Linked DNA regions of Homo sapiens: all the other regions are linked to region 3. Evidence: fine-mapped expression QTL. A gene starts in region 3. Each other region holds a variant in brackets. All regions are shown on one strand. Distances are between the middles of the regions.

The links. PIP is the estimated chance that this variant, and not a neighbour inherited with it, causes the effect.
Region 1: its variant is the best candidate, but not a certain one, in a credible set for the expression of TSC22D4 in blood mononuclear cells (TOPMed, PIP 0.54).
Region 2: its variant is the best candidate, but not a certain one, in a credible set for the expression of TSC22D4 in whole blood (TOPMed, PIP 0.53).
Region 4: its variant is the best candidate, but not a certain one, in a credible set for the expression of TSC22D4 in whole blood (TOPMed, PIP 0.76).

Annotation. Positions count from the first base shown.
Region 1 is chr7:100,041,211-100,047,336 of GRCh38, forward strand. It overlaps ZKSCAN1 (zinc finger with KRAB and SCAN domains 1), which reads left to right. Exons shown (of 6, transcript NM_003439.4): 6 at 1-479. Among named protein-coding and RNA genes, the nearest start is that of ZSCAN21, 5.5 kb to the right of the region's middle. The variant C/G (reference allele first, on the strand shown) is at 2,657.
Region 2 is chr7:100,204,613-100,209,612 of GRCh38, forward strand. STAG3 (STAG3 cohesin complex component) reads left to right here. Exons shown (of 34, transcript NM_001282717.2): 27 at 15-163; 28 at 393-521; 29 at 615-772. It also overlaps the pseudogene CASTOR3P. Among named protein-coding and RNA genes, the nearest start is that of PVRIG, 13 kb to the right of the region's middle. The variant C/T (reference allele first, on the strand shown) is at 2,004.
Region 3 is chr7:100,475,902-100,482,027 of GRCh38, forward strand. It overlaps TSC22D4 (TSC22 domain family member 4), which reads right to left and starts at 3,313. Exons shown (of 5, transcript NM_030935.5): 1 at 2,893-3,313; 2 at 1,376-2,406. The coding sequence starts at 2,137. It overlaps TSC22D4-C7ORF61 (TSC22D4-C7orf61 readthrough), which reads right to left and starts at 3,313. Exons shown (of 6, transcript NM_001395846.1): 1 at 2,893-3,313; 2 at 1,376-2,406. The coding sequence starts at 2,137. RefSeq lists enhancers at 2,949-3,018, 3,719-3,828 and a silencer at 3,469-3,628.
Region 4 is chr7:100,321,245-100,327,370 of GRCh38, forward strand. SPDYE3 (speedy/RINGO cell cycle regulator family member E3) reads left to right here. Exons shown (of 11, transcript NM_001004351.5): 11 at 1-952. It also overlaps the pseudogene PMS2P1. Among named protein-coding and RNA genes, the nearest start is that of STAG3L5P-PVRIG2P-PILRB, 12 kb to the right of the region's middle. The variant A/C (reference allele first, on the strand shown) is at 2,376.

The DNA of each region.
Region 1 (6,126 bases), 430 kb before region 3:
ACGTGCTTGTCTCTGTATACCCGCAGAATGAAGTTACTGTTGTTAAAACTGGATTTTTTCATTTTACTAGGTTCCGAAGAGTCCAGATGCTTGGTAGATGTTCAATACGTGATTTTTTTTTTAATTGAATGTGTTCATTTAAAATCCTCCTTAACATTTCTAGAAAGACTTCTTTCAATAAATAATGGAATCTTAGAGGAAAAGTGGTTTTTTAAAAGCTAGGGAACTCCTCCACTAAAAGTAACCATTGGAAACCTCGAATGAGGGCTAAAGTTTTAATCATAAGAGAAAAGGCAGCATAATGAAATGTGTACACATACATAGTCAGTGGTCCATTTTAGGAAGCCAGTGGCGTCTGATAAAGAAATGTTAAGAGTAGTGAGGTTGAGGAAGGAAATTGTGGGGATTTGAAATATTCTCTTTATGTTGTTTCTCTTCTGAGTCATGGTAAAACAATAAATTATCATCTCTAGGTGGCAGTGCTTGTGCTGGTTTGTTTTTTGTTCTTTGTTTTTCTCATCCTTGGTTGCATAAATACACATTGGGGGTGAAGAAAAAAAAGTATTCCAAAGTTAAAAGACTGGAGCTGCAACCCACAAACAAAATTCTCATGCAAAACTATCTGTTTACTTTGCAAACCAAAATTAAATTTCAAAGGCCACCCAGTCACCTGAATGGACCTCTCCTCTCAGCCAAGGGCATTCCAAAGTTAACCTGAAAAACTAGTTCAGGCCATGATGGGAAGGGGGAGCCAAACATGCCTCATTATACCCTCTCCCCATATGGAATTACTGATAACAACAGACTCTTTAAGACTGATAGACATGGCCAGCCATGGTGGCTTATGCCTGTAATCCCTGCAGTTTGGGAGGCCGAGGCAGGCAGATCACCTGAGGCCAGGAGTTCGAAACCAGCCTGGCCAACATGGTGAAACCCCCTCTCTACTAAAAATACAAAAATTAACCAGGCGTGGTGGCGGGCGCCTGTAGTCCCAGCTACTCGGGAGGCTGAGCCAGGAGAATCACTTGAACCCAGGAGGGGGAGGTTGCAGTGAGCCGAGATCGCACCACTGCACTCCAGCTTGGGCAACAGAGTGAGACTTTGTCTCAAAAAAAAAAAAAAAAAAAAGGTGAACTGGGAGGATGTGAGGTTGTGTCCAGGAGGCATCCAAACACATCTCTGACTGTTTTTACTCACACTTCTGACACAATGTGGGATTTTTTTTCATACACCAACCAATTCTCTGGACACCAACTGGGTGCCATACGATTCAATTCAATTCTGACACTACCTGTAACTGATGCAGACTCCACAGGTTGTGGGCTCAGTCCCTCAAGACTGCCCCCATTTCAGACGCCAGTCTTACATTCCGGGTTTTCACCTGTGCTTTGGACCGGCTATAAATCAAGGGCTTCCACAATCTTCTCCTCAGTCTCAGGTTTGATAATTTGCTGGGATGGCTCATAGGTCTCATATATATTTTTATTATATATACACATGTGTATGTGTATATGTGTATAGATACACGTGTGTGTGTGTGTGTGTGTGTGTATACGAATACACCACCACACCCAGGTAATTTTTGGGTTTTTTTTTTTTTTTTTTTAGACGGAGTCTCGCTCTGTCTCCCAGGCTGGCGTGCAGTGGCGCCATCTCGGCTCACTGCAAGCTCCGCCTCCCGGGTTCCCGCCATTCTCTTGCCTCAGCCTCCCGAGTAGCTGGGACTACAGGCGCCCGCCACTGTGCCCGGCTAACTTTTTTTGTATGTTTTAGTAGAGACGGGGTTTCATAGTGTTAGCCAGGATGGTCTCGATCTCCTGACCTCATGATCTGCCTGCCTAGGCCTCCCAAAGTGCTGGGATTACAGGCGTGAGCCACCGCACCTGGCCTTTTTTGGGTATTTTTTGTAGTGACAGTCTGGCTATTTCCCAAGCTGGTCTTGAACTCTTGGGCTCAAGTGATCTGCCTGCCTTGGCCTCACAGGTGTGAGCCACCACACCCAGCCCTATTTTTTCTTAATAATTATTTTTTCTTTTATAGAGATGGGGGTCCCCCTATGTTGCCCAGGCTGGTCTCGAACTCCTGTCCTCAAGCAATCCTCCCACCTTGGCCTCCCAAAGTGCTGGGATTACAGGCGTGAGCCACTGTGCCCGACCCAGAACTGGATTTTATTTTTCTTTATTTTTGTAAGACAAGTCTCGTTCTGTTGCTCAGGCTGGAGTGCAGTGGCACGATTGTGGCTCACTGCAACCTCAACCTCCTGGACTCAAGCAATCCTCCTATTTCAGCCTCAGCTGGGACTACAGGCATGCATCACTACGCCTAGATTTTTTTTTAATTTTTTGCAGAGACAGGGTCTTGCTATGTTGCCCAGGCTGGTCTCAAATTCCTGGGCCTCAAGCAATCCTCCCACCTCAGCTTCCCGAAGTGCTGGGATTATATTCATGAGCCACCATGCAAGGGCCTAAAATCCAGTTTTAGCAAGAACCCTGCTAAGTTTAGCAAAAACCTCCCACCCTCCATATCTACTTAGGCTTTTTTCTTTTTCTTTTCTTTCTTGATTTTTTTTTTTTTTTTTTTTTTTTTTTTGGAGACAGAATCTCTCTCTGTTGCCCAAGCTGGAGGGCATGATCTCAGCTCACTGCAACCTCCACCC[C/G]CTGGGTTCAAGTGATTCTCCTGACTCAGCCTCCCGAGTAGCTGGGACTACAGGTGCACACCACTACACCCAGCTAATTTTTGTATTTTTTTTAGAGACGGGGTTTCGCCATGTTGGCCAGGCTGGTCTCGAACTCCTGACTTCAAGTGATCCACCTGCCTCAGCCTCCCAGGGTGCTGGGATGACAGGCGTGAGCCACCGCTCCCAGCCCATATCTAATTACTCTTGATATTTATCTGGTCAGGTTCCTTGTCCTCCACCATCCCCCAGGCGATGTCTGATCAGCCTGGCCTGTGTTCAGCAAGAATACCCCTTCCCTCTGATGTTTCCTCTTGATCATTTTCCATACACTGACCCCCATCCTGCTCCTTGGCTATAAATTGCCACTTGCCCATGCTGTGTTCAGAGCTGAGCCCAATCTCTCTCCCCTCACTGCAAGACCCCACTGCAGTGGTTCCTGTATTTATTAGGATGGTCCTGAATAAAGTCTTCCTTACCATGCTTTAACAAGTAGCACTGAGCCGGGCATGGTGGCTCACGCCTGTAATCCCAGCACTTTGGGAGGCTGAGGCAGGCGGATCACGAGGTCGGGAGATCGAGACCATCCTGGCTAACACGGTGAAACTCCGTCTCTACTAAAAAAAATACAAAAAAATAAAATAAAATTAGCCAGGCGTGGTGGCGGGTGCCTGTAGTCCCAGCTGCTCGGGAGGCTGAGGCAGGAGAATGGCGTGAACCCGGGAGGTGGAGCTTGCAATGAGCTGAGATCGTGCCACTGCACTCCAGCCTGGGTGATGGCGTGAGACTCTATCTCAAAAAAAAAAAAAAAAAAAAAAAAAGTAGCACTGAATAATTTTTTTCATGAAGTTTAACTCCACCATTCCACTTTCATTCTCTTTTCCTTTCAATTTCTTTAGCAAATGTCTTTGCAGCTTTCCAACATGCTGCACATGTCTTCTGCTTCCTGGAAGAAAAAGGACATGTTCGGAGTTGTCATGCGCCAGAGGCTTGCCCAGCCTGCTCTAAGGGAAGTCACGGTTTGGTTACCCTCTGCTGGCCAGCTGATGGCAGCAAAAATAGGTGATGATGAGAACGAGCGAGGAAGATCCAGAAATGCACCTTTTTAGAGAGAACCATGAACACCTTACTGGAAATGGAAGGAAGGTGCCAGAGACAACACTAAATGCTGGAATCTTTTCCTCTCCTGGGTTTCCGCTGCAAAGGGCACTGGAATTATTTTTCTTTTGTCAAGCCAATAATCTCCCAGGCATGGTGGTGTGCATCTGATCCCGCTACTTGGGAGGCTGAGGCAGGAGGATTGCTTGAGCACAGGAATTCTCGACCAGCCTGGGCAACATGGCGAAACCCCTACGAAACATTTTTTCAAAAAATAGGTGCGGTGCGGGTGCGGTGGCTCACGCCTGTAATCCCAGCACTTTAGGAGGCCGAGGTGGGCAGATCCTGAGGTCAGGAGATCCAGACCATCCTGCCCAACATGGTGAAACCCCATCTCTACTAAAAATACAAAAAGCTAGGTGTGATTGCGCATGCCTGCAATCCCAGCAACTTGGGAGGCTGAGGCAGGAGAATTGCTTCAACCAGGGAGTTGGAGGTTGCAGTGAGCCGAGATGGCGCCACTGCACTCCAGCCTGGCGACAGAGCAAGACTCAGTCTCACCAAAAAAAAAAAAAAAAAAAAAATTGTCCAGCATGGTGGCGTGCATGGGAATTATTTTTCTTTTGTGGTCCCAGCTACTCGGGAGGCTGAGGCAGCAGGATTGCTTGAGCCCAGGAGTTCTCTACCAGCCTGGGCAACATGGTAAAACCCCTAGAAATAATTTTTTAGGGGCTGGGCGCAGTGGCTCACGCCTGTAATCCCAGCACTTTGGGAGGCCGAGGCGGGTGGATCACGAGGTCAGGAGATCGAGATCATCCTGGCTAACACGGTGAAACCCCGTCTCTACTAAAAATACAAAAAATTAGCCGGGCATGGTGGCGGGTGCCTGTAGTCCCAGCTACCCGGGAGGCTGAGGCAGGAGAATGGTGTGAACCTGGGAGGCGGAGCTTGCAGTGAGCCGAGATCACGCCACTGCACTCCAGCCTGGGCGACAGAGCGAGACTCCGTCTCAAAAAAAAAAAAAAAAGAAATAATTTTTTAGAAAAATAGCCAGGCATGGTAGCATGTGCCTACTCGGGAGGCTGAGGTGGGAGGATCACTTGAGTCCAGGAGTTGGAGGCTGCAGTGAGCTATGATCACACCACTGCACTCCAGCCTGGGCAACAGAGTGAGGCCCTACCGCAAATAAATAAATAAAAATAAAAAATCTCTTGAGACACAGCAAGCACACAGGATTGGAGAATCTGGCTTGTGCTCTCAGCTTTGATACTAATTAGCTAACTAGTGTACCTTGGATCCGACTTCTTCAGGCACTGGTTTCTTCAACTGAAAACAAGAAACAAGAGTTTAACCAGATTGTCCTTAAGGTCTCTTTTGACGTTAATATTTTACAGCAGCTCTAAGCCCCTTTGCTTGAGGAGCATCTCAGCCCTGGAAAGGACAATGGGTTTGGAAATAGATGGATTTTCTTCAAGCCCCAGCATAACCACTTAATGGTTTCATAACTAGACAAAGACCCGTTGACCAAGAGGCTGAATGGAGCCCCACCAAAGCATCGACACAGGTGTGGCTCTTGAAATGTGTGTAGGTTTCCCGGTTCTTCCCTCTGTCCTGGTGATCCTGTTTCCATTTCCCATCTCTTTCTTCCCCGTCTAACTGAGAGGCAGTAGAGCACAGGCTTTGGAGAAAGGGGGCCAAGTTTCACTCCTGATGCTCCCACGTATCAGTTGTGTGATATTGGAAAAGTGACTTTTTGGAGCCTGTTTCCTGGTCTATAAAATGGAGATTTTGGGGCCAGGCACAGTGGCTCACGGTGGCTCCCAGCACTTTGGGAGGCTGAGGCAGGTGGATCACTTGAGGTCACGAGTTCAAGACCATGGGGGAATGAATTAAAAGGACTAACCATGTAACAATTGTTAAAGCTGGCCAATGTATATGGAGGCTTTTTTTTTTTTTTTGGTGAGACAGAGTCTCACTCTGTCACCAGGCTGTAGTGCAGGGGTGCAATCTCAGCTCACTGCAATGTCTGCCTCCTGGGTTCAAGCAATTGTCCTTCCTCAGCCACCCGAGTAGCTGGGATTACAGGCATGTGCCACCACACCCAGCTAATTTTTGTATTTTTAATAGAGACAGAGTTTCACCATGTTGGCCAGGATGGTCTCGATCTCTTGACCTTGTGATCCGCCTGCCTCAGCCTCCTAAAGTGCTGGGATTACAGGCGTGAGCCACCGTGCCCTGCCAAGGCTCATTTTTTTTTTTTTTTAAGAGAAAGCAAGTTTATTAGAGAAGTAAAGAAACAGCCGGGCACGGTGGCTCACACCTGTAATCCCAGCACTTTGGGAGGGCGAGGCGGG
Region 2 (5,000 bases), 270 kb before region 3:
TCTCCTGGACACAGCTGTACACAGAACTGCTGCAGGAGCATGGGCCCCAGGGCCTGAATGAGCTTCCTGCCTTCATCGAGATGAGGGACCTGGCCCGGAGGTTTGCCTTGAGTTTTGGACCCCAGCAGCTGCAGAACCGTGACCTCGTGGTCATGCTACACAAGTAGGAAGTATTGGTTGCAGGTTGTGTCCAGGGAGGGCTGGGAACGAGGTCTTGGAGGGAGGTCTCGGAGGGAGGGTATGTGTGTCAAGGCATAGCAGTCAGGTTAGGGGTGGGTATGCCTTTGGAGACAAGCTGGGGACGGGGGGAGGGTGCATTTGGACAGGATAGCTCAGGCCTGGGAGGGAAGTGGGAAGAGACTTTCTTCCTAAAATAATTCTGCCCAACCAAGGGAAGGCATCCAGTTCTCCTTGTCTGAGCTTCCTCCAGCTGGCTCCTCCAATCAGCCTCCAAATCTGGCATTCCTGGAGCTCCTTTCAGAGTTTTCCCCCCGACTCTTCCATCAGGACAAGCAGCTTTTGTAAGTTGGTGGGTGGATAGAGATGTGGATTAGGGAAGGGCCTGCTGAGGGCCCAGTAGCCCCTTCAGGCTTTTGGTTCTACCTCTTTCATAGACTGTCCTATCTAGAAAAGTGCCTGCAGCATGTCTCCCAGGCACCTGGCCATCCCTGGGGCCCAGTCACCACCTACTGCCACTCCCTCAGCCCTGTGGAGAACACAGCAGAGACCAGCCCTCAGGTCCTCCCCAGCTCCAAGAGGAGGCGCGTTGAAGGTAGGGTGCTGTGTGTGGGTATGGGGGTGCCCAGCAGGTGGTCGTTGGCTGCCTGCAAACTTATTTTGTCAAGTATTTCATTGAGCATCTACTGTCATTCAGGGTATTAATTTCTTTCAAGGTTTATCTAGTCAACTGAAAACCTGTATTAAAAATCAAATAGAGGGCCAGGTGTGGTGGCTCATGCCTGCAATCCCAGCACTTTGGGAGGCCGAGGCAGGCGGCTCACGAGGTCAGGTGTTCGAGACCAGCCTGGCCAAGATGGTGAAACCCCGTCTCTACTAAAAATACAAAAATTAGCTGGGCATGGTGGCGCGCATCTGTAATCCCAACTACTCAGGAGGCTGAGGCAGGAGAATCACTTGAACCCGGGAGGCGGAGGTTGCCGTGAGCTGAGATTGCGCGACTGCACCCCAGCCTGGGTGACAGAGCGAGACTCTGTCTCAAAAAAAAAAAAAAGAAACTGATGATAAAACCAAATATTGAACTAAGAAATCTATACATTCAGAGTACCCTCCTCAACATCTTGTATTCCATTATTTTCGAAACCTTGGACACTTTTACACAACCTTCATTGTTTTTTACCTTCAGATCACCTGTTGTCTTATAAGTTGCCTAAGGTTTTGTTTTTGTTTTTGTTTATTTTTTGAGATGGAGTCTTGCTCTGTTGCCCAGGCTGGAGTGCAGTGGCGCCATCTCGGCTCACTGCAAGCTCTGCCTCCCAGGTTCACGCCATTCTCCTGCCTCAGCCTCCCGAGTAGCTGGGACTACAGGCACCCGCCACCACGCCTGGCTAATTTTTTTTGAATTTTTGGTAGAGATGGGTTTTCAGCATGTTAGCCAGGATGGTCTTGATCTCCTGACCTCATGATCTGCCTGCCTCAGCCTCCCAAAGTGCTGGGATTACAGGTGTGAGCCACTGTGCCTGGCTGCCTAAGGTTTTTTCTTTGCTTTTTAAAAAACAGCTTCATATTAAGCAACATTGTAGCAATCATTATTTCATATGCAAGTATGTGTTTTCTAGTGTACATTTTTAAATGGGACTTTATGTGACAGCTTTATTGAGATACAACTTACATATCATAAAAATCATTTTTTTTTTTTTGAGACGGAATCTCGCTCTGTCACCCAGGCTGGAGTCCAGTGGCGTGATCTCGACTCACTGCAACCTCCGCCTCCCACGTTCAAGTGGTTCTCCTCCCTCAGCCTCCTGAGTAGTTGGGATTACAGG[C/T]GTCCACCACCACCCCCAGCCAATTTTTGTATTTCTAGTAGAGACAGGGTTTCACCATGTTGGCCAGGCTGGTCTCAAACTCCTGACCTTGTGATCTGCCCACCTCAGCCTCCCAAAGTGCTCCCAAAGTGCTGGTGAGCCCCCGTGCCCAGCCAAAAATCACCCTTTTAAAGTGTACACTTAGCATATTCACTGAATTGTACAACCATCACAACTATCTAATTTTAGAACATTTTCATCTTTCCAAAAGAAACCACATACCCATTCGCAGTCTCTGCCCATCTTCCCAGCCTTAGGTAGTATCACTAATATAATTCCTATCTCTTGATTTGCCTACTCTGGACCTTTCATATAAATGGAATCATATAATATGTGGCCTTTTATGTCCAGCTTCTTTCACTTAGTACAGTGTTTTCAACGTTCATCCATACTTTGACATATATCAGTATCTCATACCTTTTTATGGCCGAAACAATATGCCATCGTGTGGATATGCCACATTCTACTTATCCACTTGTCAGTTGATTGACATTTGGGCTCTTTTATGCATAATGCTGCTAAACATGCATGTACACATTTTTGGGTGGATGCATCTTTTCAGTTATCTTGAGATATACCTGGGAGTGGAATTGCTGGTTCGTATGGCAATTCTATGTTTAAGTTTTTGAGGAACTACCACACTGTTTTCCAAAGTACCTACACCAGTTTACAATCCTACCAGCAATGTATGGGGACTCTGGTTTCTCCATGTTGTCACCGGTACTTATTAATGTCTTTTTTTATTTTATCCATCTCCTAGTAGCTGTGAGGTGTGGTATCTCATTGTGGTTTAAATTTGCATTTCCCTAATGACAAATGGTATTGAGCATCTTTTCATGTGCTTATTGACAATTTGTTTATCTTCTTTGGAGAAATGCCTGTTCTGATCCTTTAGCTATTTTAAAATAGGGTTGTCTTTTTATTGTTGAGTTGTAAGTATTCTTTATATATTCTAGACATGAGATTCCTTATGATATGCAAACATTTTCTCCCATTTTTTGGGTTGTCTTTTCGTGTTATTGGTGGTGTCCTTTGAAACACAAAAGTTCTTGAATTTGGTGAAATCTAACTTTTTCCTTTTGTTGCTTGTGCTTTTGGTGCCATATCTTGAGAAATTGTTGGCTAATTCATGAGGTCACAAAGATTTACTCCTGTGTTTTCTTCTAAGAGTTATAGTTTTAGCCGGGCATGGTGGCTCACGCCTGTAATCCCAGCACTTTGGGAGGCCGAGGCGGGCGGATCACGAGGTCAGGAGATTGAGACCATCCTGGCTAACACGGTGAAACCCCGTCTCTACTAAAAATACAAAAAATTAGCCAGGCATGATGGTGGGCGCCTGTAGTCCCAGCCACTCGGGAGGCTGAGGCAGGAGAATGGCGTGAACCCGGGAGGCGGAGCTTGCAGTGAGCCGAGATTGTTCCACTGCACTCCAACCTGGGCGAAAGAGCGAGATACTGTCTCAGAAAAAAAAAAAAAGTTATAGTTTTAGCTCTTAATTTAGATTTGTGATCCAGTTTGAGTTAATTTTTGTATATAGTGTGAGATGAGGTGTGATTTCCTTTTGTTGTCTTCTGTGTACCACCTAAAATTATGTCTTATACCACCAGGAAACTCTGCTTTAATTAATTAACTAATACATAGTTGTTAGGGACCTACTATATGAAAGATACTATGTTCAGTGTTTTAGGGGCCATGAAGAATCCAGCAGCTTATTATCTAATAGGAAAGGGAGAAATTTTAATTATGGAAAACTCGAATTATGAACAATTGCCAATAACTGCCTGAGGGCTTGTACAAGTGAATGCTGTAGAATTCAGAGAATGATGAGAGCTTTACCAAGAAGATGGAATTGCTGGAGCTTAAAAAATAAGTAAGATTTTTATAAGCTGAACAGAGGAAGGAGGAGCATCATGGGCTGGCAGAATAGCACAAGCAAAGCATAGAAGGCTGTGTGCTGGGCGAAGCATGGAGGTACATAGATCGCTCTGCCTAAAGCGTAGGGTTTGTGAAGGCAAGATAAAACTGAAGAGTTTGTTTTTATTCATTCAATAGATACTGAGCACCGTGTGCTGGGAATACAGCAGTGAACAAAAAAGCTAAACATCTCTTTCTTTAGAGAGTGTCAGATAGTAGTAAATACTATGGCAAAAAAGCAGGGAGGATTGTGAGGAATGCTGGCGGGGTGGGGATTGCAGTCTTACAAAGACTGATCAAGGGAAGACTCAACACAAATGTTGGGCAAAAAGCCTAAAAAATAAGTTAAAAGATACACTTAGGCACATTACAATTTTAACAGGTTTATTTGAGCATTCAGCAATTTTATCAATCAGGCAGTGGCAGACCGCCAGCAGTTCAGGGCGCCACCACCGAGGAAACCAGAGGGGACACTTACAAGGTGTCTCTGGGAGCAAGACAAAGAAACTATTTGATTGGTTAGAGTGGAAAGTTCATATTTAGAGGTTAACTGACCATAAATCTCTTGTTAGAGGTTAGTCGGTAGTTTCTGACTGGTTAAGCTGAAGTTTCCTGCTCCTAGGTTACACACAACACTTTCACTCTGAGTTGAGTTTCAGTTTGCTGACTTAGGAACCCAAAGTGCAGGAGCCATTTCAGCCTATTGGCCTCCCAGCGAATTTTTTATAACAGGTGAGGGAGGGTGCTTAGTGTGTATCAGAATAGCATACCAAAGGAAGCAGCCAGTCCTGAGGCCACGAGGGGATGGGGGGAATGTTCCTGGAATGTTCAAGGAACAGCAGAGAAGACCATTATGGCCAGAATGCAGATTGTAGGACATGAGACCAAAGAGGGTACAGGATCCCAGAGCATCTAAGGCAGAGACTGGCTTTTACTCTGAGTGCAGTAGGAAAACCATTGGAGGATTTTGAGGAACGACAGGATCAACCTCTGTTTTTAAAGGATCCTTCTGGCTGCTGTGTCGAAAACGACAGGAGATGGGGG
Region 3 (6,126 bases):
GCCCTTCTCCACCACTCCCCTCTGTTAAGAGGGAGAAGAGGCATGAGGGGACGTGGAAGGGAGACAGACTTTTGGGCAAGGAAATAGCAAAACAGATGCGTGCAAACAGAAGACCGTCAGGAGGTGGGGGAAGGCTGGGGAGTAGGGGGCACTGAGAGAGAGAGGCAGGGTCTGTGGCCCCAAGAGAAGCTCAGGCCAGGCTTAAGGACAGAGAGCAGGGAAGCTGGAGGCCAAGGGGGTTTGCTTTGGAAGAGTCTGGGGACAGGACAGGAAGAGAAACAGCATCTTCTCCCCTGGGGTGGGTGCTGAATGCAAGAGTTCAAGAAGAGTTGGGGGAGGGGGGGTAGGAGGGGGCATCACGAGAGATGTGAGCTTGAGGCCAGGAGGGGTTTGGGGGGAGCCAGTCCTGACCGGTCCTGACAGGACCCAGACATCCAGTCCCAGGTTATTTTTATACTGTGGTTTGTGCCCAAGGCCAGGAAGGGGAAAGAGTTCGCATCCTCACACTCCCTGCCTTTCCCCAGACCTCCGAGGTGTTATATTCTCCCACAGGACAGAAGTATCCAACCTTCTATCTCTGGCTGCTCACCCCCACCATGGGGACCCAGGCATCCTGCCCCCACAGCCTGGCTTGTTCCTCTTTTGGAGACAGGAAGGAGAAAGAGTATGGGACTGAACTCCCTTCTGGGGCTCTTCTCTCCCACTCCACAGTGGTCACCCTCGAGTTATCAATCACAGAGAGGCTCAGATGGACGGGGGTGAGCCAGACAACTGGGGGGTGAAATGGATCAACCAGCAGGCCCCCTCCCTGTCCCTGAGAGGTGTTCCCCCCACCCAATTTCTCAGTGACACTTGGCTTACAGCAAAGCTGGAGGCAGGACTGAGATGGGTGGCTGGGGGAAAAGAAAGACCCCCACATTCAGGATGGGGCTGCAGTGCAGAGACTGGCAGCGCGCAAGGCCTACCTTTTACTTTTCCTCCCCAAATCCTGGCAGCTCCTCCCCTAGGGACCCAGCTACCCAGCTATCCAGCTGGGGCCTCCACCCTCATCACCTAGAGGCAGAGGGGCTGAGACCAAGACAGAAGAAGGCCTGATGAGGGGGCCACATATGCTACAGGCTACATGAAGACCAAGACAGAGAATCAGAGGCCAGGGAGAAAGAGAGAGGGTGCAGAAAAACAGGAAGGAGGCTGAGACAGAAAATGAAGTAGGAGGAAGGGGCTTCAGAGTGACCTGGCAGGCACAGAGAAGAGGGCTATCTGATCTTATAAAGTGATGGAGAAGGAGGAGGAGAGGGGGGGGAGGAGGAGGAAGGAGGCTCAAGATAGAGGTTAGGCCAGGGCTGATGGGCCAGCCCTAGAACCCAGGTCTTACCTGCCCCATCTCTTCTGGAGCACCCAACTCCATCCGCAGCCGCATGTCTACAGCTTTCCTCCGGGACAGTGGAGGGGTCCTGGCCCCTGAGCCCCCAGCCTCCGCTTCCACCCTCAGAGAGGGCAGGGGCGTGGCAGCCCGGGATGTGCCCGCACTCTCACCGGTCTCAGGCTCTGGGGGGCGCTGCTGGGGTGAGGAGGCCGACAGTGGGGGTTTCTCTGCCTTGGCTTTGCTGGGCACCACCAGCTGGCCCAGTCCCCCAGTGAAGGAGCGGGCCTGAGGTCCAGGAGAGGTGGGGGGTGGACGGAGCCAGGAGGTGGGGCCCTGAGACAGGCCTGACGGTGGGGTGGGGGCGCCCAGGCCGAGGCTGGCCAGCTCCAACCTGGAATCCAAAGATCTGCCCCCGGCGCCCCCTGAGGCCCCTCGAATTCCCTCCAGGAGTCCGCCGAAGCTGTGGGGCTCCAGGTCTCGCTCATAAACATCCACACACGTCCAGCGACCGCGGCGATAAGGCTCTCCCAGGCCGTGGGGCAGCTTCACCACCCGGAAACGGGAGGAAGGGGCCCCAGGTGGTGGGGAGCCATTCCGGGGGGTGCCCTTGCCCCCCGGATCGGGGCTGGGCTCCCCATTGGGCAGGCGGGGCGGGGGCCCGGTTGGGGGCTGTGGGGTAGGGGGATCCGAAGCCCCTGGGCTCCCAGGGCCCTCATAGTCCGTGGTGACGCTGGTGATTTGGAAACTACTCTTCTTCTTGCCCCCGCTCATGGTCCCTGGGGCTCAGGGCTGGGCCAAGGTTGGGGGTGGGTTGGGGCTCCTTGAAGGGGCTCAGGCACCCCTGGAACAAGGGGGCCACATGGCGGGGACATCCGAGCCCCTGGGGACGTCTGGGTCCGACATGGCAGGAGGGCCTGGCGGGAACCGGGGGTGCCTGCTGGGTGAGGGGAGAAGAGGAGAGGGGAGGTGGCGGGAGGGGGGAGCAGGGGCAGGTTTTTCCTGCTGCTGTTGCTGCTGAACTCCAGAGCTGAGTTTGCAAACTGGAAAAAGAGGGGGAGAGAGAGAGAGAGAGAGAGAGAGAGAGTGTGTGTGTGTGTGTGTGTGTGTGTGTGTGTGTGTGTGTGTGTGTGTGTGAAACCAGTGGGCAGGCCACCTCCGGGGCTTCCTCTCCGGGGAGCAGAGTGGGGGAAGGGGAAACCGTCAGAGACCCAGAGACAGGCAAGAGATGACAGAGACCAGGGCAGAGGGGACTGGATCCAAGAAGGCACTCAGAGTAGAAAGAGGCAGATGAGTCCCAGAGTTGGGCATTTCTCGCCTGGGATTCTGACTCAGGGGGCCCGTATTGTCCCAAGAGCTCGGACTCCAGGGCCTGGGAGAACCAGGCTGAAGCAGCTCCCCAGCCTGGCCCGGCCACTCAGAGAGACCTCTCCTGGGCCTCGAGCCCCCACCCTCACCCCAGCTCCCACATCTCTGGGGCAGGCCCTGCCCGGCTACCCCCCAGCGCCCCACCCAGCCCTGAACCCTACCTCTGGGGCCTCGGCCACTGATCTGAGCCTGAGGGTCCCGGCGCCTAAGAGGTCGGGCTGTCCGTTCCCTGGGGCCTCCTGGCCATGGGCAGTGGCGGGGCACGCAGGCGGCGATCAGAGGCTGTCCCGTCCTCTCCGGGGGCCGCGGCTCATCCTGCCAGGCATCTCCGAGGAAAGTTTGCTCTCCGGAAAAGAAGAAACCCGCGCCTCCTCCGAGGAGCCTAGGAGCGGCCTCTGAAGCCCCAAGGGTCTGGAGACTGATGTGGGAGGGGGCGGCCGAGCCCCCCTCTGCTCCCGGTGGCAGCCAGCGAGTGGGTGTCCCGAGTCTCCTCCCGCGTGACCCTGCTGGGTCCGTGTCTCCGCTCCTCGGCTCCCCTGGGTCTCTGCCTCTCCGTCTTTCTCTTTCTGGGCTGTTGACAACCCCCACACCAGGAAGTCCTGCCTCCTCGGGCCTGCTGACTGCTCCTCTCCTCCTCCTCCTCCTCCTTCCCCTCTTCCTCCCCTTCCTCCTCCCTCCCTCCCTCCTGGGGCTTCCCGCCAGCTGGCCCGGGGCCAGGCCTGCCACAGCCGCTGCTGTTGCAGTTGCTGCAGCCACTGCTTAGGCTGCTGCTCCTGGGGGCCCCAAACAGACTCCCTTAACCCCACACCTGCCGGGCCCTAGCCCCACTCTTGCAGGGAGGGGCTGCAGGGGGCGGGGCTCGGGGAGAAAGGGGAGGAGCTTGCAGGGAGGCGAGGGATTCCCTTACTTGTAGTCAATTGCTGCCATTGGCCTAGAGACACACAGAAGAGACGGAAGGCACAGGCCGGGAGGTGTGCTGCATGCCCACCCAGAAGTTCCCAGTCCCTGCTGTGGGGCAGCTGTGGCTGTTACTGTCATTCTCCTTTGGTTTTCACAGCAACTGCATTATTCCCCCCATTCCTTATTTTTAAAAGTGGATTATTGCCGGATCCCGGTGGTGGCTCATGCCTGTAATCTCCGCACTTTGGGAGGTCGAGGAAGGAGGATCGCTTGAGACCAGTTTGGACAATATAATAGCAAGACCCCATCTCTACAAAAAATAAAAAAAAATAGCTGGGCATGGTGATGTGCACCTATAATTCCAGCTACTCAAAGGTGGGAGGATCGCTTGAGCCCAGGAGTTCGTGACCAGCCTGGGCAATATAACGAGATCCCCATCTCTACAAAAAATTTAAAAAATTAGCACTTTGGGAGGCCGAGGCGGGCGGATCACGAGGTCAAGAGATTAAGACCATCCTGGCCAACATGGTGAAACCAAGTCTCTACTTAAAATACAAAAATTAGCCAGGTGTGGTGGCGGGCACCTGTAGTCCCAGCTACTCGGGAGGCTGAGGCAGGAGAATCACTTCAACCTGGGAGGCGGAGGTTGCAGTGAGTCGAGATCACGCCACTGCACTCCAGCCTGGTGACAGAGTGAGACTCCATCTTAAAAAAAAAAAAAAACTGAGTGTGGTGATGTATACCTGTAGTCCCAGCTACTCAGGAGGCTGTGAGGCAGGAGGATCTCTTGAGCCCAGGAGGTTGAGGATGCAGTGAGCCAAGATTGTGCCACTGCACTCCAGCCTGGGCAACAGAGTGAGACCATGTCTCAAAAAAAAAAAAAAAGTGGATTATTATGAAAATTTTCAAACATGCCATGCAGACATGGGGAGACCATGCAAACTCCACACAGATGGTGGTCCCAGCCCAAAATCAATTTTTAGAAAATCATCAATGTTATAATGAAATGACATTCAATGAAATGACATTGTGTGGGGGCCAGCTGTAGTTTGCTGGACTATTTGAAATCAGATCCTAGATGTTATACTATTCCCCTTTCCCCCAACCTGCCCCCGCCTTTTTTTTTAGAGACAGGGTCTCTCTCTCTCTCTGTTGCCCAGGATGGAGTGCAGTGGTGCGATCATAGCTCACCACAGCCTGGAACTCCTGGGCTCAAGCCATGCTCCTGCCTCAGCCTCCCAAGTAGCTGGGACCACAGACACACACTACTACGCCTGGCTAAATTTCTTTAAAAAAAAATTTTTTTTTTTGGTAGAGATGGGGATCTTGCAATGTTGCCCAGGGTGGTCTTGAACTCCCGGCCTCAAGTGATCCTCCTGCTTCTGCCTCCCTAGTAGCTGGGACCACAGGTGTATACCACCATACCTGGCTAATTTTTTAGTTTTTGTAGAGACAGGTTATTACTATGTTGCCCAGGCTGGTCTCGAATTCCTGGCCTCAAATGATACTTCCACCTGGGCCTCCCAAAGAGCTGACATTACAGGCGTGAGCCATGGTGCCTGGCCTCAGGGAAATTTCTAACCCCTCTTTTTTTGAGACGGAGTCTCGCTCTGTCGCCCAGGCTGGAGTGCAGTGGCTCTATCTCGGCTCACTGCAAGCTCCACCTCCCGGGTTCACGCCATTCTCCTGCCTCAGCCTGTAGCTGGGACTACAGGCACCCGCCACCATGCCCGGCTAATTTTTTGTATTTTTACTAGAGACGGGGTTTCCCCGTGTTAGCCAGGATGGTCTTGATCTCCTGACCTCGTGATCCGCCCGCCTCGGCCTCCCAAAGTGCTGGGATTACAGGCATAAGCCACCACGCCCGGCCTCTAACCCCTCTTTAGGGGTACGTAAAAATAAAACAATGCAATACCTACCCTCTTTATGTATTTATTCTTTATCTCTTTGTTAGAAGCATCCACACTTCTGTTTCTCTCCCTTAAGCCATAGTAACAACGGCTGCCATAGCCCAAGTCTGTGGGCCTCCCAAGTAGTGAAGTCTGGGAAGCAGCCTCCCACCTGCTCCCTACCCCTCTAGACTGCATCCCTCTGTCCCTTACAGAACCTTTTCTCCTCTAGCAACATTCAGAACACAGCCTTGGTCCCTCCTTCCCCAGACCCTCCTTCCTTCTTGCTGACTTGCTACAAACTATTCAAAAATTATCTTTGGGCAGTCTCTTTCTCTGCCTCAGGCACTGGTATCTGAGTCTAGAGGCCCTGGCACATTGTTGATCTCTGCAGAAATGTTTGTTGAGTAAATACATACAAATTTTTATATTTTAATTTGAGATGAAGTCTTGCTCTGTCACCCAAGCTGAAGTGCAGTGGCGTGATCTCAGCTCACTGAACCTCCGCCTCCCAGGTTGTGATTCTCCTGCCTCAGCCTCCCGAGTAGCCAGGATTGTAGGCACCCGCCACGACGCCTGGCTAATTTTTGTAGTTTTAGTAGAGAT
Region 4 (6,126 bases), 150 kb before region 3:
CAGTGCAGGGGCTCAGATTGGCACAGAATTCTTTGTGAAATATGAGTGCCACAGACTGTAACAGATAGCTTCATGCACACTATGCATTTTATTGGTTTGTTTGGAAAATGTTGGCCATTGAATCATTAATAGGTTTATTTCAAATAGTTTGGAAATTGTTGTACTTTTGAAAACATGCTGTTCCTGTAGAGTTTTTTGATGAGAGTTATAGTTGTTATATATACATAAAGATAATTTTCTTTTCATTTTTAAGTGAGAATTCTTTTTATCCTAAATCTTTTATTATCTTTAAATTTTTCTCTGTATTATTATATGTGCTCCTGAAGCGAGCACTCTTTTTATCTATGATACTTCCATAATAATCTCTTCTATTTATAGCTATTGGTAGTTCCCCCAAATTCTGGTCATAGAAATTTTTATTTGCTGTTTAGGTTTGTGACTGAATTGTGAGAATTCAGTTGTGATTTTTAACATGTCTTAGATATATATACTAACATGTCTAATATATACTATCTATTTTATTGATTTATTTCGAAAAAGATGGGCAAAGAATTATTTAAATATTATTTTATTTATTTAAATATTTATTAAATATATTTATTTATTTAAATATTTATTAAATATATTTATTTATTTAAATGTTATTACTTTAAATATTATTTTAAATATTTTGGAAATACTGGTATTTTTGAATAGATGCTGTTTCTATAAAGCTGTGTGATGGGTATTATAACTGTTATATACACATAAATATAATTTTGTTTTCCTTTTTAAGAGAGGATTCTTTTTATCCTAAATCTTTTACCTTTCAATCTTTGTATCTATTACTACATATGCTGCTGAAGGGAGCAGACTTTTTATCTATGATACTTAGTTAATGTATATATTACATTTATAGCTATGTGGTAGTTCCCCTAAATTCTTGTAAAAATAAATTTTTATTTGATATTTAGTGTATGTTTGAAATGTGAGAATTCAGATGGAATTTTTTATCTTGTTTTGGCATGTTTGTATGTTACTTTAAAGAGGATGTGTGTTCTAAAGGAGGACATGAGCTGTGTGTTTTCAAGAGAACAGTGCAGTGCATCTCTTGGGGAAACATAATAAAGATGAACTTTTCTCACCTTCACAGTGAGTGTGATCATATTGTGGTCTGGATTGATTATTTGCTGTCAAGTGACATTTTTCCTTAATGGGGTTGTGGTTATTTGAACATATTTATTAGCTCTGGAAGATAATCCTGTGTTGTTTTTTATGTAGAAAAAAACATAAGGCTGGGTGCAGTGCTCACACCTACAATCCCAGCAGTTTTGGAGGTCATGGCGGGAGGATCACTTGAAGCCTATTTTTAATTTTTATTTTTTAAAGAAAAACAATAGAAGAGAAGGCTGATCCCAAGCTACAGGGTTTTTTTGTTTGTTTGTTTGTTTGTTTTGGAGACAGTCTCGCTCTGTCTCCCAGGCTGGAGTGCAGTGGCACAACCTCGGCTCCCTGCAACTTTCACCTCCGCGTTCAAGCAAATTCTCCTGCCTCAGCCTCCCAAGTAGCTGGGACTACAGGCACCCGCCTGTACGTCTGACTAACTTTTGTAAAAATAGTAGAGACAAGGTTTCACCATGTTGGCCAGGCTGGTCTCAAACTCCTGACCTCAAGTGATCCACCCGCCTCAGTCTCCCAAAGTGCTGGGATTATAGGCATGAGCTACTGCGCCCAGACCCCAGGCTAGAGTTTTAAAGCAGGAAATGAGAGAAAGATATTGAGAGAGGAAAACCAGGTGGTAAGAAAACTCTAAAGGTGGCTGGGCGTGGTGGCTCACGCCTGTGATCCCAGCAGGAGTTCGAGACCAGGCAGGAGAATCACCAGCAGAGAATATGTCTCCCCAACCCCTCTCAAAAAAAAAAAAAAAAAAAAGGGCCAGGCGCGGTGGCTCAGGACTGTAATCCCAGCACTTTGGGAGGCTGAGGCGGGCGGATCACAAGGTCAGGAGATCAAGACCATCCTGGCTAATATGGTGAAACCCCATCTCTGCTAAAAATACAAAAAATTAGCTGGGCGCGGTGGCAGGCGCCTATAGTCCCAGCTACTCCGGAGGCTGAGGCAGGAGAATGGTGTGAACCCAGGAGGTGGAGCCTGCAGTGAGCTGAGATCGCGCCACTGCACTCCAGCCTGGGTGACAGAGCGAGACTCCATCACAAAAAAAAAAAGAAAAAAAAGAAAAAAAGAAAGTTCCTGCAACAGTTCAAGCTGTGAAAGACAGGCGCTCTGCCATGCAATTCTTTGTGATTTTTCTTTTTTATTTTTGGAGTCGGGGTCTTGTGCTGTCACCCAGACTGGGGTGCAGTGGTGCGGTCACAGCTCACTGCGGGCTCAGACTG[A/C]AGCTCAAGCGATCTTCTTATCTTGCCTTTCTAATTGCTGGGATTATAAGCATGAGCCACTGCACCTGGCCTGTGTGACGTAATTCTGATGTCAACTCCCTGATGTTACATCAAATGCTACAGGTTAAGGCCACCAGCCCCCGCTAGGCTGCCCTCGCTTCAGATGCAGCTGCAAGCTTGGGTGTCCACAGACTGCATGTACTTCTCACCAACTGGCTGCAAATTTGGAGGTTCCCACCACGTCCTCAGGTTTGATAATTCACTATAACAACCCACAGAACTCTGAAAAGCATGATACTTTCTCTTTCTTTATTTGAGACAGAGTCTTGCTCTGTCGCCCAGGCTGGAGTGCAGCGGCCACCATGCTTGGCTAATTTTAGTATTTGTATTAGAGACAGGGTTTCGCCATGTTGGCCAGGCTGGTCTTGAACTCCTGACCTCAGGTGATCCGCCCACCTTGGCCTCCCAAAGTGCTGGGATTACAGGCATAGCCACCGTGCCTGGCTGACTTCTAGAGTTTCAATAACAGAGATGTGGTTCAAGAAGAAAAGGGAGACATGTTTTGTAGACAGCAGGAGCTTCATGAAAAGAAGCCAATGAAGGGCAGGATGTGTAGCTGTCTACCTACAGGAAACCAGCCAGGAGCCTCCCCGCAGGGAGTTCAGCACAGACGGCCGGGAAAATCTGCATTAACCTGAGCTCTGGACCTAAGAGAGGACAAGGCCTTGACTGTTTCTACAGACTCACAAGACGCAATCTCTGCGGTCCATGCCCGTGGTGTGATCTGGGAAACAGGGGGCCTTCTAAATGCCAACAACAAGGAAATCAAATGCGCAACAGACAGAAATACCGGCATTGACGCGGGCCATGGAGAGGCCTAAACAGATGACTGCAGTCCACTGCCAAGGTCATCAAAGGGGTGACTCTGAAATAAGAAATTTCAGACGCCACGGCCCAAATAGCTGCACGAGGTGGGGAAGTCCTCCACATGCCTCTGCTTCCTTCAGTACCTCTTCATGAAATAAGCGGAGGTACTTCCCTGGGGAATTTCCTTTCTCTTTCTTTCTTTCGAGACAGAGTCTTGCTCTGTCGCCCAGGCTAGAGTGCAGTGGCGCGATCTCGGCTCACTGCAACCTCTCCCTCCCGGGTTTTGGCAATTCTTCTGTCTCAGACTTCTGAGTAGCTGAGATTACAGGTGTGTGCCACCATGCCCAGCTAATATTTGTATTTTTACTCGAGACAGGGTTTCACCATCTAGGCCAGGCTGGTCTTGAACTCCTGACCTCATGATCCACCCGTCTTGGCCTCCCAAAGTCCTGGGATTACAGGCACGAGCCACCGCACCCAGACTTCTTTATTTTTTGAGATGAAGTTTCGCTCTTGTTGCCCAGGCTGGAGTGCAATGGCGAGATCTCAGCTCACTGCCACCTCCACCTCCCAGGTTCAAGTGATTATCCTGCCTCAGCCTCCCGAGTAGCTGGGATTACAGGCACCCAACACCAAACCCAGCTAACTTTTTGTATTTTTAGTAGAGATGGAATGTCACCATGTTGGCCAGGATGGTCTTGAACCCCTGACCTCTAATGATCTACCCGAATTGGTCTCCCAAAATGCTGGGATTACAGGCGTGAGCCACTGTGCCCAGCCCCTCCCATACCTCTTTTGGCCAAGGCAGTACAATTCAGAGAATCTTGCCAGGGAAGACTGGTAAATGGACGTCAACATGATGCCTATGGCTCCTGGTGGATTTAGATACCTCCTGGTGCTTACTGATACCTTTACCAGTTACATGGGGGCTTTTCCATGCCAGACTGAAAATGCAGGAGATCACTGATCAACCTTCAACTATTTACTAGCAGAACACTGAGGGGACTCTGCAGTCACCAATATCTCCTATTGCACTTGGATAAACACCTCCCGGGAAATAGAGATGAATAGAAAGGAAATAGTCAAACAAGCAGAATGGCTACATTCCTTCAACCAGAAGGGTCCATTAGTCTGTTTTCACACTGCTATAAAGAACTACTGGAAACTGGGGAATTTATGAAGAAAACAGGTTTAATTGACTCACAGTTCTGCAGGCTGTACAGGAAGCATGGCTGGGGAGGCCTCAGGAAACTGACAATCACGGCAGAAGGCGAAGGGGAAGCAGGCACGTTTCTGGCCATGGTGGAGCAGGAGAGACAGAGAGAGTGAAGCGGGAGGTGGTGCATGCTTCTAAACAACCAGATCCCATGAGCGCTCACTCACTATCATGAGAACAGCAAGGGGGACGTCAGCCGCCATGAGCCAATCACCTCCTACCAGGTCCCTCCCTCAACACTGGGAATTGCAATTTGACATGAGATTTGGGTGGGGATACGGAGCTGAACCATATCAAGGGTAGTACAACCACTGAGATTGATTGACTGAGATGGAGTCCCGCTCTGTTACCTAGGCTGGAGTGCAGTGGCACAATCTCGGCTCACTGCAACCTCCGCCTCCCAGGTTCAAGCAATTCTCCTGCCTCAGCCTCCCTAGTAGCTGGGACTACAGCACACGCCACCACACCTGGCTAATTTTTGTATTTTCAGTAGAGACGGGGTTTCACCATGTTTGCCAGGCTGGTCTTGAACTCCTGACCTCGTGATCACCCTGCCTCGGCTCTTCTTTTGCTGGAATTACAGGCGTGAGCCACCGCACCTGGCCAACCACTGAGATTTAGAAGGCAGTCGAGTCCACTATACCACACCTCACCTGGTTTCTTCCTCTGTTGGGGCGCCTCGTGGCCACTGTTCTGTTACTTTTTGGTCCTATTTATTTAAATGGATGGTGAGCTGTTTGTCCTCCAGGATCCAACACTTCCACCTTCAGCTTGTATTACAACAATACCAGCCTTTCAAGCTACTCCAGGTGACCCCAGAACTCATTTGAACTCAGAAGCCCAAGAGTTTCATTCCTCTCACTTTAGGGGACTAAGTGCCCCTAGTCAGCATGAAGTCGATACAGAAGCATGACCTCCATCCCTAATCCCTCAAGAATGAGGAGTGGAAGGTGTCGGCAGGAGGGTGGGACGCGGTTTGTAAATCTGTAACTGCATCAGACCAAATCTAGTTCAACTTTTTTTTTTTTTTTTTTTGATGGAGTTTCGCTCTTGTCACCCAGGCTGGAGTGCAATGGCACGATCTCAGCTCACTGCAACCTCCACGTCCTAGGTTCAAGCATTCTGCTGCCTCAGCCTCTGGGGTAGCTGGGATTACAAGGGTGCGCCACCACGCCTGGCTAATATTTATATTTTTAGTAGAGACGGGGTTTCACCATTTTGGCCAGGCTGGTCTTGAACTCCTCGACCTCAGGTGATCCACCTGCCTTGGCCTCCCAAAGTGCTGGGATTACAGGCGTGAGTCACCGCACCCGAATCAGTTCAACTTTTATGTAATGAAGTTGTCAGTTGTTTTTCAATTGCCATCGACCCGCAGGTTGAAGGTCATGTACCCTGTGCATGCCCAGGTTAACCAAGCGTGCCACCGTGGAGTGGAACCTAAGAGCTCAGCCTGAAGAGCTCGGACCGATTTAAGAACCAGACACCCCAAGGCAGGAGCCAGGATCCAATCAGATTGAGTTTTGGCGTCACCCCATGGCAGGATCCAGTCAGATCACATCTCCCAGCATTACTTTATTGCAAGATCCAATCAAATCACACCTCATTACCCTACGCTTATAAAACCTGACATAGCCCCGAGCTGTGTAAGGGAGATTTGAGTACTTCCTC